Homo sapiens: one gene and its partners. The protein of the gene in region 2 interacts with the protein of the main gene of each other region in a pairwise test. Each region holds a gene or a part of one and is shown on either strand. Other genes may lie near its edges. The genes, in order: PTCD3, TBPL1, ABCF3, RAB35 and GTF2A1.

Region 1 (3,812 bases), on a different chromosome or scaffold from region 2:
CGGCTGGGCACGGTGGCTCATGCCTATAATCCCAGCACTTTGAGGCTGAGGCGGGTGGATTACCTTAGGTCAGGAGTTTGTGACCAGCCTGACTAACATGGTGAAACCCCGTCTCTACTACAAAAATACAAAAATTAGCCGGGCATAGTGGTGCTCGCCTGTAGTCGCAGCTACTCAGGAGGCTGAGGCAGGAGAATCACCTCAGCCCACGAGGCAGAGGTTGCAGTGAGCCAAGATCGCACCACTGCACTCCAGCCTGGGCAAGAAGAGCGAAACTTTGTCTCAAAAAAAAAAAAAAACCAACCACTTTTTTATATCATACTAGTCTATTATTTTTGCGTCTTTTCTTGGAAAACTCTCCTAGGTAGAAGACTGAAGACAGTTGACCACCTCTATCAAGTGGGGTGGGTGTTTGAATTAGCAGGCTTCTTTAAAAGGCAGAATCATGGAACCTGCTAATTAATAAACAGTTCTTAAAAGAGGGATATAGTTACTAACCTGCTTTAAACATAAGCAAGAAAGCTAAATTCTTTACTTTGTATGAAACATAGATTATTGGACAGATTACCCAGGCATGAAAGATACTTCTTGTTTTTTATTCACCTAGGAGCTGCTAAGACACATGGTTGCACAGAAGGTGAAACCAAATCTTCAGACTTTTAATACCATTCTGAAATGTCTCCGAAGATTTCATGTGTTTGCAAGATCGCCAGCCTTACAGGTTTTACGTGAAATGAAAGCCATTGGAATAGGTGAGGATGCGCCCTTGAGTTCTCTGAGGACAGAGACTGTGCCAGCCAGAGGTTTCAGGGCTACATAAGCAAAGAGCTTTAAATTATTCTTGTGCTTACATAATATGTTGGAAATTTTCTTTCCATGTTTGGCACATTTACTTACATGTACTTATTATAGTGGGAGTGCCTTTATCATCTTAGTGTTCATTAGTATTTTAGGTACTTTGTTTATGGATCTGTTGAATCTGAGGAGAAGTGATTGCTTTGAGTTAGCTAGTTTTAAATTCATGACATTTTCCCAACATAATTAGGTATTTGAACCTAAGTGTGTGCTAGTGTATTGTATATTTTTCATTAATTACTTTATTGAAAGTTGCTTTGGGAATCAATTCACTTCAATATATTTTACTGTTCTCAGTGAAGAATGTGACTAATAAGTATTTGGACTTTCAAAAAGTGATACAGTCTTTGTGATAGTTTTTTACCTTTACATTAATGAGTTGGAAAATAACTTTGTTCAAAGGAATAGAAATGCATATTTTGCTTAAATATTAACAATATGTTTTTAATTCAGTGTGTCTCAGTAAACTATGTTTTGGATTGCTGTGTTTTTACCTCATTGTTTATTTTTTCTGTCTACCTGGTAATTTGAGAACCCTCGCTTGCAACATATCACCATATTATTCGCCTGTTTGATCAACCTGGTATGTATGGCCTTAAATTGTGTTAATTTATATAGAAAATTGACCAGCTTTCTTGAGTTTATGTGATTAATTGTTGTAGTTATCTTCTCTGCATATGAATTAAGAAGAGAGAATTTGTAAATTAACCTGTACAGCCTGAGCAGAAAGTTGTGGTTTTTTTAGATACAGGATCTTGCCCATTGCAGCCTTGAACTCCTGGGCTCAAACAGTCCTCCCTCCTCAGCCTCCTGAGTAGTTAGGATTACAGATGCCCACCAGCATGCCTAGCTGATTTTTTTTTTTTTTTTTTGGACAGGGTCTTACTACCTAAAATTATTCTTGAGGGTAGCAATCTTGTTTGTGGTCTAAAACTTGAGCTGGAGGGGAGAGGGTTATGGATTGTACTGGCAGTGATGTTGTACAAACAGGAATTGGGTAGAATATATTTTGGTTGAAATTCCTTTTGTTCTCTGGAGCTGTGCTATTTAACACCATAGCCACTAGCCACATGTGGCCAGTTAATTAAAATTAAGTAAAATAATAAATTATTTTGTCACATTGGTGCTCAGTAGCCATGTGTCTAGTGGCTACCATGTGTCGTGATGCAGATTCAGAACATTTCCATCTTTGCCAAAAGTTTGTGGACGTTTCTGCTCCAGAGGAAAGGTAAACTTATTGTGAAGCGTTTTGGGAGGACCTCAAGGCTCCATGCGTTGTCCACTTTTAGGTCAGTTCCAGTGGGAGCTCTGCTCTGTAGTAGATGGACTTTGAAGAGAGACACACCTGAGCTGAGATGTCCACTCTACCATTTATTTACCAGCTATGTCAAAGCGACTAGATACCTACCTGAGGAATAGCAGCAGGGTGTGGTAGTTAAATGAGTTCCACACTGTGTCTGCTACTGTGCTTGGAGGGCACATATGAGGCACTCAAAATCTTTTGGTTCTTGTCCATTATCCCCAGCCTGAGAAATAACCCTTGAGTTCAGAATTGACAGTTCTAGTCATTCTTTCTTGTGGATAGACTATAAAAATTACAGAAGGGAAGTTGTTTCTCTCTGGTTTGGAGGACTAATTTTGTAAAATCCATATCCTCACCTGTATAGGCAAATTTTATCTTTAGGAAAAGGAACCAGTTAATTGACTATACCTTGGAAACAGGTAAACAGTTTCCATAATTGTGTCCCCTAAAATTTTACTCAACCTTGGTGAGATTGTGATGGAGCTAGTATTTCTGACTCCAAAGTATATTCCTTTCCTCTGTAACTCTCATCACTGGTTCAATTGCTAATCAAAGTCAGATGTACTTACATTTCCTAAGTAACAGCCAGGACTGGGGGATGGGGGTTCTGGGGGAGCTGTGTTGGTTTGTCTTATGTATATAAATTTGCCTGTCTGCAGCAGTAGTTTTGGCTTACGCCTGTAATCCCAGCAATTTAGGAAGCCAAGGCAGGAGGATTGCTTGAGCCCAGGAGTTTGAAACCAACATAGAGAGACCTCCATGTCTACTAAACATGAAAAAAGTAGCTGGGCATGGTGGCGCACCCCTGTAGTCCCAGCTACTCAGGAGTGTGAGGCAGGAGGATTGCTTGTGGCCAGGAGGTTGAAGCTGCAGTAAGCTGCGTTTGCCCCACTGCACTCCAGCCTAGGTGACAGAGCAAGACCCTGTCTCAATAGTAATAATAATTTCTAGGAATTTACCCAAAAGAGAGAGCCTAAAATAACCTAGAAACAATACATTGAAAAGAGAATATTATGTAACTAATAAAATTAAGAATATTAGCAAAGGGAAGCATGCTTGAGTAAATTGTGAAACTCTATCTGTACTGTCATTACAGCTTTACTACCACAAACATACAAAACAGGTAGGGAAAGGAGTGTAGAGAAATATTTGACTGGGAATATTGCAGATGATTTTCTGACCTATTAGTGCTCAGTTCATGTTATATTTAAGAACTGCCCTGTCCATTAATTCTAGTTTACTTTTTCTTGACCTCATTCTGATTATATTTAAAGGGAACACAAATGATTACTAGCAAAAAACATTTTTAGCCGGGTGCAGTGGCTCATGCCTGTAGTCCCAGCACTTTGGGAGGCCGAGGCGGGCAGATCACGAGGTCAGGAGTTCAAGACCAGCCTGACCAACATGGGGAAACCCCTCCTCTACTAAAAATACAAAAAATTAGCCAGGCGTGGTGGCGAGGGCGTTAGTCCCAGCTGCTCGGAAGGCTGAGGCAGGAGAATCGCTTGAACCCGGGAGGCGGAGGTTGCAGTGAGCCGAGATTGTGCCATCGCACTCCAGCCAGGGCAATAATGCAAGACTCCATCTCAAAAAAAAAAAAATTTTGTTTTTCTAAGTATGCTGGTTTGGTGAGGGAGTGTGTGTTACTGTCTGC
Region 2 (3,812 bases):
ACAAACTGCTGAAAATAATATGATTTATATCTTAACCTGGACATCTTAAATTTTAGTTTTTGTTAAACCTGTAATATTTTAAAGCCTGAATATTAATAAGTAATAATAAAACCTTAGTGTTTTGAGATTAACATTATAAAAGACATTGGATGTCATTATAAACCAAAGATTGACGAGAGGAATATGTATTTTACACATTTGTTATGAAAATTAAGAATGTATCTCAAGGCTCTATTTAGCTTTAAAAATTAGATGCCAGGATACCTATGTAAATTGCCATTAATTAATTAATTTTTTTTTTTTTTTTTTTTTTTTGAGACGGAGTCTCACTCTTCCGCCAGGCTGGAGTGCAATGCAGTGGCATGATCACAGCTCACTGCAACCTCTGCCTCCCAGGTTCAAGCAATTCTCCTGTCTCAGCCTCCCAAGTAGCTAGGATTACAGGTGCACACCACCACGCTCAGCTAATTTTTGTATTTTTAGTAGAGACGGGGTTTCACCGTGTTGGCCAGGATGGTCTCAATCTCTTGACCTTGTGATCCACCCACCTCAGCCTTCCAAAGTACTGGGATTATAGGCGTGAGCCACCGTGCCTGGCCGTCATTAATTCTTAGTACTAGAAACTAAGTAAAGATGAATTAAATTCAATTAAAAATTTCAGTGACTCACAAAGATTTTCAAGTTTGTCAGCAATCCCATCCTTCCTTTAGAAAAGTAATAAATATGTCTGCTCAAAAGTTTAGAGAGGAATATGCCTAACACTGCTTTGGTACTTCAGCATGACATATGGAAAGGAAGTAGTTTTTTTAAGGCAGGTTAATTGAAAATTCTGAGTTGATAGACAAGCTGGTGATGGTGAGAGACAATTAAATGTAGGATAAACTCAGTCAAGTGTTTCTCAGTCACTTGTATATGAAATTTTATAATGTATTTTAGTTCAAATTTTATCTTGATCTTTGGTGAATTTTGAGTCTGCCCAGATTTAATAGCTTTCTAGTTTGATAATATGGCATATGACAGAGAATGAAGAACACAAAATGTAACAAAAATTTTAAGCAGAAACATCTGATTCATTTATGTTAGTCAGTGAGCATTTATGTCTTTCTTACATAGAATGAGCATCTAACAAATATTTCCATTAATGAAAAGTTGGAATGAAAATTTAAATTTGCATATTTTCTTGGAGCTTAGTCCTTGACCTATTTATACACACTCTGTAGTTATTTCATTGTAACCCATAGCTTTAAATGAATTTCCAATTACATCTCCAGCTCCAACATTTCTCCTTTATTCAAGATGCCGATGTTGAACTTGAGTATGTAATAAGCATCTCAACTCTAGGATGCAATATAAAGTAGTGATGGGTACCATGAAGCAGCAGAAAGCAGAATTAGGAATTAGAAAGCAATGAAGGGATGGGTGTTTCAGGGAAATGATTAGGGAGGGCCTCTCTTCAGGAGGTGACATCTGGTAAGAGACCTGAATGAAGTGAGAATATTGAGGGGATAATATTCCAAATGAAAGCAACAGCTACTGCAAAGCTTCTGAAGCATGAACAGATTTGGTGTGTGTGAAGAACCATGCAAGTTCCAGTTATATGACTGGGGTGGAATGAGAGTTGAATTGTTTATATACTTGGAGTACATTGATTTCAAGTATATAGAGTGAGAGATTTCTATACACCTTGTATTTTTAATTAATCAAATGTCTTTTTGGATTAATATGTTCTTTGTGTTTGGTATTGTACTTGATTTCAGAATGGTAGATTTGGAGAGCAGTTATTGCAGTCTTGGATAAGCTTGGAGAGTAGTATTTGGACATTAATATGACTATATAGAACAGAACCTTATGTGAAAAATAATGCTTATGAGGTAATCAGATTTTTTTTCCCCCCAGAAAGTATTAATGAAGCTTAGAAAACCTAGAATTACAGCTACAATTTGGTCCTCAGGAAAAATTATTTGCACTGGAGCAACAAGGTAAATGCTACTTGGGTTTTTTGTTTTTATTTTTTACTTTTTCCCTCATGGAAAGGACATTTTCCTAGACTTAACAGCAAAATCATATGTAAAGTTTGTTATGTTCCTCAGTATAACATTTATTTCCTGTGTAACTGATAATCTTTTTCTTTCCTTAAAACCGTAGTGAAGAAGAAGCTAAATTTGGTGCCAGACGCTTAGCCCGTAGTCTGCAGAAACTAGGTTTTCAGGTAACGTTTTCAAATAGTATCTAAACTACAAATATTCAAGGACTTATTTTTATAGAATTAAAAATTGTAATAGACTCAAGAAATCACTATGCGTACTATTCTTATGATTAAACTTTTTCTAGGTTTTTTAATACTGCCCTTCAGTGTGAAAATTAGTAGCAAAATTTGGCTATGTGGGTATTTGTAAAGGATCCTAGCTTTTTCCCTAATTCCTTTCCCATAAAGAGACTTGTTTCCTCACAAGTTAATTTCCTTTTCAACTCTTTTTTAAGTGTTTTCACCTCTGACGTACACAAACAAAATGGTTTTTGGTCATCTCAAGAATGCCAGGTCAGAATGGTGAATAGAGAATGGCAGAGGCCGTTGACATGGACACACCAGCTGGCAGGCTCTCACACTTGTAACGTGACTGTCACTGGCATGTCAGCCTCATCACTATAACTTGATAGAGGTATACCTTTGAATAAAACGATTACATATTATGGACTTGCTAGGTCACTTGCAAATGATGAATAAATGAAAGATAAAGATGAGAATGGTCCCTGAAGATGAGGGCAAGGCTGTTTGGGATTGAGACAAGTTTGTAGAAGTGGGGATAGGAAGTTACCTTTCCCTCTGATGACTCAGTCTCTCTGAAGTAGAGGGTGATAGGAAGAGACTGAACGGCTGGTGGGGAGTGGGGGTTGGTGCTTGAGAAGGGTGGCAGTAGAGAGAGGCTTGAGTTGTACTGTGATTTGAGAGTGCTGCCACTTTGCGGTTTCCTGGCTTTGCGCAACTGCTGTGTGCAAGGCTGAGTTGAAGGATAGTTCGCTCACCCAAAATTGTGGTTTTAGGAGGAATGTTTGAAAAGATAATGAGATGAAACGAAGATGTTGGTTGGAGTGGCCAAAGTTATTAATGTTAACAGCATTATTTTCAGCCTTGGAACTTCTTTTCTTAGTGTAACATTAGAAGTGTTGAGAGAAATCCCAATTAGTTAGAAACAAATTTATCACTCTATCCCCAGAAAGAAAATAAACATCTAGCTAATCTCACAGAAATGTCATTTTGCCTTATTGCATATGAGAAAAACATCTGACTTTTGGAGCCCAGTGTACACTCTGTATTTACTGACTTTAAAGTGACATCTTTTCCATTTTTACTCTAGCAGGATGACCTGGACTTAAATTTTTTTTCCCTCACTATTCTCTCTCCTTTCTCAGTAGTTTTAAATATTTCACTTAAAGTATTAAAAAATTAAACATATGATTAGAAAGACCCATACTGTTTTGATCATGCAAATACCTCAGTTTTTAATTTTTTTAATGGAGTTTTTGAGCTTTTTAAAAAACTGAATTAAAGCTTTCCATGCTACACAACTTACAGTACTAAACATACACTTAAAATGTTTTTGTTTTATCTTGTTTGCTCTTGTTTTTAAGGATTGCCATTATGAGCAGATTTTTTGTTTGTTTGTTTCAAAATAAATTTATTGAATTTTACTTCTCTCCTAAAGGTAATATTTACAGATTTTAAGGTTGTTAACGTTCTGGCAGTGTGTAACATGCCATTTGAAATCCGTTTGCCAGAATTCACAAAGAACAATAGACCTCATGCCAGGTAA
Region 3 (2,966 bases), on a different chromosome or scaffold from region 2:
ACATTGAGGAGAGAGCATGGGCTTCAGGGTCAGACTTCGGATCTTGACTATGCCATTTCCTAGCTTGGTTACCAAGCAGCTTCCTAACTCTTAAGATGGCGCTGACATCTACCTCACTTGGTTCTTGGGAAAAGTAAGTCCCCAGCACTTAGCAAATACTCAAGTATTGCTCACCTTAGTATATGCATTTTTCTGTAGAGTTAGAGTTCCTTTTTTTTTTTTTTCGGAGACAGAGTCCTGCCCTGTTGCCCCGGCTGGAGTGCAATGGCACAATCTTGGCTCACCGCAGCTTTCGCCTCCCGGGTTCAAACAGTTCTCCCTCAGCCCCACAAGTAGCTGAGATTACAGGCACCCGCCACCATGCCCAGCTAATTTTTTGCATTTTTAGTAGAGATGGGGTTTTACCATATTGGCCAGGCTGGTCTCAAACTCCTGACCTCAAATGATCTGCCTGCCTCAGCCTCCCAAAGTGCTGGGAATACAGGCCTGAGCCACCGTGCCCGGCTAGAGTCCTTAAAAATATTTTTTTGGTTGTTGAAGGAGTCATCGGGACTGGGGACTGCCTGGGACCCCTTCTAATTTCCTTCTCCTCTGTGTTACACACAGCGGTGCTCTTTTTATTGATACATAATTGTACATATTTATGGGGTACAGAGTGATACTTCCATGCATGTATACAATGTGTAATGATCAAATCAGGGTAATTAGCATATTCATCATAAACATTTATCACTTTATGTTGGGAACATTCAGAATCTTCTAGCTTTTTGAAAATGTACAGTCTATCATTGTGAACTGTAGCGTCCCTGCAGTGCTGTAGAACCCTAGAACTTATTCCTCCATTCCTCCTATCTAACTGCAATTTTGTTTCAGTTAACCAACCTCTCCCGAACCCCTCTCTCAATTCCCCTCCTCCCCCCTTATCCTTCCCAGCCTCTAGTAACCACAACTCTGCTCTCTACTTCTATGTGCTCAACACTTTTTAGTGCCCACATATGAATGAGAACATACCGTATTTATTTTTCTGGCACACACTGTATGACATTTTCATGTTTCTTAAGGTTGGAGAGAATGGGGCTGGGAAGTCTACCATGCTGAAGCTGCTTTTGGGGGACCTGGCACCTGTTCGGGGCATCAGACACGCTCACAGGTCAGGCCCACCCGCACCCCTGCCCCCATGAGCACATTTGCAGGCACCCATGCTGCCTGCGCTCCTTCGTGGCCATTGCCTTTGTCTGTTTTTCCACCTCGGCTTCTGCCTGCAGGAATCTGAAGATTGGCTATTTCAGCCAGCACCATGTGGAGCAGCTGGACCTAAACGTCAGTGCTGTGGAACTGCTGGCACGCAAGTTTCCTGGTGAGTTAGGGATTTGAGTCGGGGGAAGAGTTTGAGTAGGGAAGAGGGCTGAGGCTGACCCCGGCAGCTAGGCCTGCCTTGGGGTGCGTGCAGAGCAGCCCCGCCAAGCCTAGATGGAAGGACATGGGGACTTGGAGGTGTGGCTGGAGGGCACAGGGAGGGTGTTGGGCCAAGAAGCCACCTGATCTGGGGAGTCCTTTTCCAGGGCGGCCTGAGGAGGAGTACCGTCACCAGCTGGGTCGGTATGGCATCTCCGGAGAACTGGCCATGCGTCCTCTTGCCAGCCTGTCTGGGGGCCAGAAGAGCCGAGTGGCCTTTGCTCAGATGACTATGCCCTGGTGAGGCCTCATTTTCCAGAGCTCTTCCCCTCCCATTTCCCCTTCTTGCCCAGTAGAAAACTGTATCAGAAGGCTTTATTTTCTCTCACCGCACCCCTTCACTGCCCACCTTCCTGGTTCTGCCTTCCAGCCCCAACTTCTACATTCTGGATGAACCCACAAACCACCTGGACATGGAGACCATTGAGGCTCTGGGCCGTGCCCTCAACAATTTCAGGGTGAGTGTGCCTTCACCCTGACCACTCCTCCCAGGCCTCGGTGCCTCTTGTGTCCCCCTGAGCACCTCCTGCCCTCCTGTCTTTCAGGGTGGTGTGATTCTGGTGTCCCACGATGAGCGCTTTATCAGGCTGGTGTGCCGGGAGTTGTGGGTATGCGAAGGAGGCGGCGTCACCCGTGTGGAAGGAGGATTTGACCAGTACCGCGCCCTCCTCCAGGAACAGTTCCGCCGCGAAGGCTTCCTCTAGGGCCACCAGGCTGAGGACTCGCCCAGGACATGGACTGGTCTCTCAGACCCCTGGGCCACCATGTAGGCCACCACTCCAGGCCGTGGACTTCCCCCAACTTGGGGACAGCCTTATTCCCAAATGTCTCTATCCTTTTGACTGGAGCATCTTCTGCACAACCTTGGGAGCCCATCCAAGGGTTGGTGAGGACTGGTCTCCCGGGGGTGGGGGTCTGGGGGGTACCCTCTGGGGTTATAGATTCCCCCACTGCCCCAGCTCTGACTGGACCCCAAGTGGCTGCTATGTAAATTAAATCTCTCCCCGCGTCTCCTTTGCCTCATGTCTGCTGCTCCCTGGGCAGTGGTTGCCTCCTACTGAGGGCTGTGGACTCTCGGATTGGCGTTTTCCTATGGCACTTGTATCCCTCACGTGTAGGAAGCAATAGCAGCACCAGCCTTGCCTCTAGAAGAGACATTGTCAAGCTACTGGGGCATGGAGGTCATCTGCCTGCCTGACCTTGGGGTGGGCTGAGCCAGTGGAATGAAGGGCAGTGTATTGGCATCATTGCGGTGCTGTTAGCCCTAGCCTGGGCTCAGCCTCAGCTGAAGGGGTCTTGGGTTCTGTCGTCACAGCCCCCACTGATGGGCAGTTGAACTGATTGTGTAACCTGGCCTCACACGTGGCCAGCTGCTTTCTCCAGTCATATCTGGCTCCGGCTTGCCCTGCTTCTCTGCTCTCTAGACTCAGCACTGAAGAGAAACCATCTTTGTCCTCACTTTGCTTGGGTGATTGCATGTTCTTTATATTTCCTCTAACCATATAGGAGGG
Region 4 (2,889 bases), on a different chromosome or scaffold from region 2:
AGGAGGGGGCACCAGTAGGGAAGGGCGGGCTGGTCCAACACCTTCTTGGCACTCGAGGAGGGCGGGGGAGGAAGTGCCGATGGCACCTCCCGATACAAAAACATGGAGAGAATTCTTTAAATAACGGCACGAAACTGAGACTGTCCCCCGAGGAACCTCCGTGGGCCTCGGGCTGGGGGAGGGACCGCAGTGCAGTCTCTGCAGTGGACTGGGTGCCATTAGCAGCAGCGTTTCTTTCGTTTACTGTTCTTCGTGAGCTTCACCACATCGTTCTGTTGTTGCTGCTGCTGTTTTGCCAGGTTGTCTTTCTTTGCTCGGAGGACCAGCTCCGTGATGCAGTTGAACATCTGTGGAGAGGAAAGAGGAAGGGCCCGCCTCAGACCTGGCCAGGAGGCCCCTGCTGGCCTGCACGGCTGCCTCCCCGCCTTCCGGGGCCCAGCTCTTTCTACCTGTGCATTTTTGGTATGTATGTCTTCAAAGCCTATTCTAGAAGGAGGTGGTGAATTATTTTATTTAAAGGTCAAAAAGGAACAACATTGCTAAAACCCCACCTCTACAAAAAACACAAAAATTAGCCGGGAGTGGTGGTGCACACCTGTAGTCCCAGCTACTTGAGAAGCTAAGGTGGGAGGATTACTTGAGCCCAGGAGATCGAGACTACAGTGGGCTGTGAACACACCACTGCACTCCAGCCTGGATGACAGAGTTAGACCCTGACTCAACAAATAAATAAGTCTGAAAAAAGGAACACCATCAGAGGCCCATGAGCTGTGTGGACTTGGGGAAGTCAATCTCACAGGGGTTTTCCAGTCCTTCTTTTAGAGAGACCAACCCCTTTCCTTCAGCTGGAATCTTTTTTTTTTTTTTTTTTTTGTGAGATGGAGTCTCGCTCTGTCGCCCAGGCTGGAGTGCAGTGGCGTGATCTCAGCTCACTGCAAACTCTGCCTCCCTGGTTCACACCATTCTCCTGCCTCAGCCTCCCGAGTAGCTGGGACTACAGGCGCCCACCACCACGCCCGGCTAATTTTTTTGTATTTTTAGTAGAGACAGGGTTCCACCATGTTAGCCAGGATGGTCTCGATCTCCTGACCTCGTGATCCGCCCGCCTCGGCCTCCCAAAGCACTGAGATTACAGGCGTGAGCCGGCGCGCCCGGCCCAGCTGGAATCTTATGACATGACAGATGAAAGTGCCCCTGCTGTTCACGGACATAGGTGACCCGGGGTCTGCCTGCTCCACGCCACTTCATGGCATGTGGGGCCCAGAGAGGTGAAGTCACCGCCCAAGGTCATACCAGCCTTGCCCACAGGCCCAGGTGGATGGGCCAGCATCAGGACACCAGCCTGACTTACAAAGGAGCCTGTGCCCGCTGCTGTGTGGCCCCTGTGCCCTGAAGCAGTGGGATCCTCGACTTCCACAGGCCTCTGGGCTCCACACAGCACAAGGCGGCCAATGAGGCAGAGGACTGGAGTGGAAACTGTGCTTGGCTTTGGTGTGGGACAGAGGTTTACTCAGTCTCTTACTAGCCAGGTGGTGGTCCTTGAGTTACTTCAACACTTGGAGCCTCAGTTTCCCTATTTGAAATGTGGGTATAATTGTACCTACCTCAGAGGACTGTTGAACTATGAACTAAGATCGTTAAAGGGCCTGGCACATAGTAGGCACTCAATAAATGGCAGTTACTATGACATTTTCTGTTGGTCATTTAGATGCCTCAAGCAGGCCAGCAGCATGGAGAAGGCGGCCACGGGTGTGTGGCAGAGCCACAGTGGCCCAGGGCCTCACCTCTTCCACGTTGACATTCTCCTTGGCGCTGGTCTCGAACAACTGGATGCCCATCTGCCCGGCGAATTTGTAGGCATCTTCCGTCTCCACCACCTTCCGCTCAGGGTCGTCATTCTTATTACCCACTTCAAACGAAGGCAGAGTCAGCGCAGCCCTGAGGGGCGCAGCCGGCTGCCTCTCTCCCACCCAACCCCGACCCGGCCCTGAGTGCAGCCTCACCTAATATTCGGCACACATCATCACAGTTCTGGTTGATTTCGTGAAGCCACCGCTTGACGTTGACAAAGGACTCGGCACTGGTGACGTCGTAAACCACAATGACCCCGTGGGTCCCCCGATAATACCTGCAGGGCCAGAGTGTGCGGCAGCATGTCAACCCCGACAGGAGTCACCCCCTTGCCGGGACCCACCTGCCCACGTCAGGACACTGACCCGGAAAAGGTGAGGGTGGCCCTGGAGCCTGGGCTCTCACTCAGCCTCGGCAGATGCCCCCGAGCCACAACAGGCCAGCAGGAGAGGCTACTGCGGCAGCACTGACTCCCCCTGCCCGCCCGGGGCACCAACAGGGCGGGAGGGCCAGCCCCTGGGCAGCAGAGCAGGTCTGAGGAGTCACCTCCTGCTGTTCAGAGTCTGCTGCAGGCTTGAAACATCTTTGAAGTTCTTGCTTTATTTTGGGAAATCAGGCAGTTTTTGTATTTGACATCATGTTATCACTGTCTTTGAACATTCAAAAAAATATTTGCTCCTCAAACCTGTTTTAGAGAACCTTTCCAAGAAGCCACACCATCATGACGCCCTGGCAAAGTCTGTGCCCCTCCCCTGGGGCAGGTAGGCACCTCCCTTCCTGCTACTCTTGGCTCATCTGTGCAGGTGGCAGGAAAAGCATGGAAGCCACACAAGCATCCAGGGATGGCTGGGGAGAGGGCGCCCAGCAAAGCCATCACCCCAAACATGCAGAGCCCAGGGCCAGCCAGGAAGGCCAGAAGGAAGGGGAGGCCCAACTCTCCTCTCCAGACCCCATGTCCCCATTCATCCCAGTGGCACAGGACGACATCAATCCCCGGAGGAGGAGGGGGACCACAGCCTCCGCTTCCCCGAGAGCTGT
Region 5 (3,812 bases), on a different chromosome or scaffold from region 2:
CCAGGTTGGCCAGGCGTTGTGGCTCACGCCTGTAATCCCAGCACTTTGGGAGGCGGGCGGATCATGAGGTCGTGAGTTCGAGACCAGCCTGACCAACATGGCAAAACCCCGTCTCTGCTAAAAATAACAAAATTAGCCGGGCATGGTGGCGCGCACCTGTAGTCCCAGCTACTCAGGAGGCTGAGGTGGGAGAATTGCTTGAACCCAGGAGGCAGGGGTTGCAGTGAGCCGAGATCACACCATTGCACTCCAGCCTGGGTGACAGAACGAGACTCCATCTATAAAAAAAAAAAAAAAAGGTAGACCCAGGTTTTCAGATTCTCAGTCCAGTGTTCTTCATGTGAAGGCAGTGTATAACTTTTGTCCTGGTAGCTGGCATATACATAGTATGTGCTCAATAAATGAAGCAGTTATCTTTAGAAAATCCTTATTTTCTAGAAATTTGATAAAATAGAAATTTAATGGGTCACTACACTAGTTAAACTAATTGCTTTTGTACTTTGGTAGTTTTTAACTGTGTATGAAATATGGCCATTCTGGTGAATCTTAAGCATTTGTTTCTATTTCTGTGTACCATACTTGATCCTCTTAACTAGTTACTGTTATGTGGTTTTCTTTTGCTTTAGGTGCTGGCTCCTCTTCCTGGAGGGATTTCACCACAGACAGGTGTCATCATCCAGCCTCAGCAAATCTTATTTACAGGAAATAAGACTCAAGTTATACCTACGACAGTGGCAGCACCTACACCAGCCCAAGCACAGATAACTGCAACTGGCCAGCAGCAACCGCAGGCCCAGCCTGCTCAAACACAAGCTCCATTGGTCTTACAAGTTGATGGAACTGGGGATACATCATCTGAAGAAGATGAAGATGAAGAAGAAGACTATGATGATGATGAGGAGGAAGACAAAGAGAAAGATGGAGCTGAAGATGGGCAGGTGGAAGAAGTAAGTTTCTAGTAACATACTTAAAATAATCTACTTGATTATTTCCTTTTTTAGTTGGTACAACACTGATAAATTATATCCTGTTTTTTTCAGAGACTGTTAGGTGCTGTACAACATAAGATTTTAAAGATAAAGTTAGATTGTTTTAACTTTAGTAAGGTTTTTATATTCTGGCTATATTTATCTTCATAAAATATAACTTTCATATAGCTGGTAATAAAAAATGTATAACAAATTAAATTGTATTAATATGTGTAGTAAAGAGTACAGGTAATTCTAACTCTGGCTTACGCATTTATAATGTGGCTTAAACATAAGACATTGGTAGATAAATAGATGTGGTTAATCTTTTGCTTCAGTAATTTAAAAAGCGTGGCAACATTTGGGGAGAGAGCAAACTCAAGAACCAAATGTCACAAATTTATTAAATATTTAAAACCTTTTGGTCCATGTTCTATACCACTTCCTTAAAAACCTATGTACCCTTAATGTCTGTGTTCTTCTAGAAGCATATAAATATGCCTTTGTTTTCCTCACTATTTCAGCTTAGTTACTAGGCTCCAAAAACTATTTGTCCCACCACAATTTTCACTGTTAATTGCCTTCGTTAGCCTAAAATGCAGTCTTTTTGTTTCTTAGTACAAAGTTCTTCTAAATTATCTAAGTAATTTTTTTTCTGAAGAAAACATAGTTTATTATTGAATATTGAATAGACACAAATGAATAGAAATGTTTCAAGATAAAAATCATCCTGGTGCCCACCATCTAGTTAAAATAAAATTCCATTATTTAAAGTGCCTTAGATGCCTCTCCCTAATCCCATCATTCCTAGGCCATCAAAGTACCTTTGCTCATACATTTGTGTTGATTATTAATTGCTTTTATATTTTACCATATATATTTATATTCCTAAATAGCATATTGTTTAGTTTTGCATGTTTACAACGTAAATGAAGTAATTACGTATTCTTCTGCAAGTTGGTTTTTTCCCCTTAAAATGATATTCCTGAGGTTTATCCAAGTTGTTGCATATAGCTATAATTATTTTCATTGCTGAATATACCATAATTTTATTTGTCAATTTTTCTAATCCAGTGGACATAAGGATTGTTTCTTGTTGTTTACTGTTACAAACAGTTATAAAATATTGTAGTGTATGTCTTCTGGGGACACAAATGCAAGAGGTTCTCTAAATTTTATACCGAACATTGAACTTCTGGCTCCTAAGTCATGCACATCTGCAACTTTATAATAAAATGCCAAATCACTTCTGCCATTCAATACATAATTGTGCAGATGTCCATACCCCCTTATCAATACCTGATAGTGTCAGGCTTCCTGATTTTTGCTGGTCTGGTAGGTAGAAAATAGTATTATTTCATTTTGGTTTTAGTTTGCATTTCCTCACTTAGGAGTTTTAGCCTCTTTTTGTATATTTATTTGATATTTGTGTTTTGTATAGAAGTGCTTATTGAGGTCTCTTGCCCGTTTCCTCCCCCTAAATTCTTCATAGTTTCAGTGCTTCTTGAAGTAACATGTTTTTATTACCTTTTCCAGTTTATTGGTAGGATGGAAATATGTAGCGCTTTTAATATTCATCCTTGAACCAGCCACCGTCCTAATGTCTTTTGTTAGTCCTCATAATGTATCTGTAGATTCTTTTGTATCTTCTGTGTAGACTTTCACATCTTATATGAAGAACGGCAGTTTTTTGTGGCTCATTGGCTAAGCCTTCGGGAACAGTATTGATTAGAAGTGGTGATAGCAGGCACTCTTCTCTTCTTCTTAAACTGAAAAGTAATCTTTTCCATGCTTCACTGTTAAGTTTAATGTTTGTTGTGGGTTTTCTTTTTTTTTAATGGATATCTTCATCAGGTTAAGTAAATTCCCTTCTTTGCATTGCTTTGTTTTTTAAACTGTAAGTGAATGTTGCATTTAATTAAACACCTTTTCTGCAATGATTTGTATAATTTCTCACGTAATGTTATTTATAATGGATTTCATTAATTGATTTTCTATTTGTAAACCAATCTTGTACTCCTGGGATAGCACAACTTGATCATTTTATATTTCTCTTTTTATAAATTGCTGAATTCATTTTGTTGAGGACTTTTTTGTAGATATTTATGATTGATAGATACTGTGTGATTTTCTGTTCTCATACTCTTCTTACAAGGTTTTCAGTTATGGTAGCTTTGTTAAATGAATTTGGGGACATGTTTCCTGTATTTTGAACTCTTTTTTTTTTTTCAAAGATTGTATTTAATTCTTCTGTTGATATTTGTTAAAACATGACACTACAGATACCTGGGTCTAGTAATCTCATGCCCTTCAAGTATTTTGTTTCTGTTTGAGACCGTTTTGATAAGTTATATTTTTCTAGGACTCTCTATATATTTATCTAAATTTTCAAGTTGATTAACATGAAGTTAATCATGATATTGTCTTTTTGATGCCAGAATCCTTTGTCATCTTCATTCCTAATATAATTATTGTGCCATCTTTTTTTTTCCCTGTTCAGTCTTACCAGGGATGTGTTGATTTTATTAATGTTTTCAAAGAGTAAACTTTTAGCTTTATTCTCTCTAGTGTGTTTTTCCCATTCTATTCTTTTCTGACTTAACTGTTTTGTTTGTAGAGAATATGATCTGTGTGATGTGTGAATCTTTTGAAATTGCTTGAGACTTGCTTGATTTGGTCAGTTTTTGTATATGCTTTGAAAAGAATGTGTTTTCTGCACTTGTTTGGTATTTGTATGTGTCTGTTAGATTTATATTGTCAGTAGGTTTGCTCAGATGCTCTTTATGTATCCTTGATATTTTTTGTGTGCTTGATCCATTTTTTTTTTGAGATGGAGTCTCGCTC

The links.
Region 1: the proteins of TBPL1 (region 2) and PTCD3 interact in a two-hybrid assay, tested with the Homo sapiens proteins (one large-scale study listed by IntAct).
Region 3: the proteins of TBPL1 (region 2) and ABCF3 interact in a two-hybrid assay, tested with the Homo sapiens proteins (one large-scale study listed by IntAct).
Region 4: the proteins of TBPL1 (region 2) and RAB35 interact in a two-hybrid assay, tested with the Homo sapiens proteins (one large-scale study listed by BioGRID and IntAct).
Region 5: the proteins of TBPL1 (region 2) and GTF2A1 interact in binary tests that used the Homo sapiens proteins (3 or more experiments, as listed by UniProt).

What each region holds. Positions count from the first base shown.
Region 1 is NC_000002.12:86,126,554-86,130,365, forward strand, and holds part of PTCD3 (small ribosomal subunit protein mS39 precursor), read left to right. Parts: intron 1-607; coding exon 608-752; intron 753-1,387; coding exon 1,388-1,438; intron 1,439-3,812. UniProt on the Homo sapiens protein: Mitochondrial RNA-binding protein that has a role in mitochondrial translation.
Region 2 is NC_000006.12:133,980,672-133,984,483, forward strand, and holds part of TBPL1 (TATA box-binding protein-like 1), read left to right. Parts: intron 1-1,896; coding exon 1,897-1,979; intron 1,980-2,145; coding exon 2,146-2,209; intron 2,210-3,704; coding exon 3,705-3,808; intron 3,809-3,812. UniProt on the Homo sapiens protein: Part of a specialized transcription system that mediates the transcription of most ribosomal proteins through the 5'-TCT-3' motif which is a core promoter element at these genes. Seems to also mediate the transcription of NF1. Does not bind the TATA box.
Region 3 is NC_000003.12:184,191,540-184,194,505, forward strand, and holds the end of ABCF3 (ATP-binding cassette sub-family F member 3), read left to right. Parts: intron 1-1,061; coding exon 1,062-1,150; intron 1,151-1,265; coding exon 1,266-1,357; intron 1,358-1,562; coding exon 1,563-1,695; intron 1,696-1,825; coding exon 1,826-1,913; intron 1,914-2,000; coding exon 2,001-2,159; 3' UTR 2,160-2,466; downstream 2,467-2,966.
Region 4 is NC_000012.12:120,097,027-120,099,915, forward strand, and holds part of RAB35 (ras-related protein Rab-35), read right to left. Parts: intron 2,129-2,889; coding exon 2,004-2,128; intron 1,910-2,003; coding exon 1,785-1,909; intron 348-1,784; coding exon 219-347; 3' UTR 1-218. UniProt on the Homo sapiens protein: The small GTPases Rab are key regulators of intracellular membrane trafficking, from the formation of transport vesicles to their fusion with membranes.
Region 5 is NC_000014.9:81,189,654-81,193,465, reverse strand, and holds part of GTF2A1 (transcription initiation factor IIA subunit 1), read left to right. Parts: intron 1-626; coding exon 627-947; intron 948-3,812. UniProt on the Homo sapiens protein: TFIIA is a component of the transcription machinery of RNA polymerase II and plays an important role in transcriptional activation. TFIIA in a complex with TBP mediates transcriptional activity.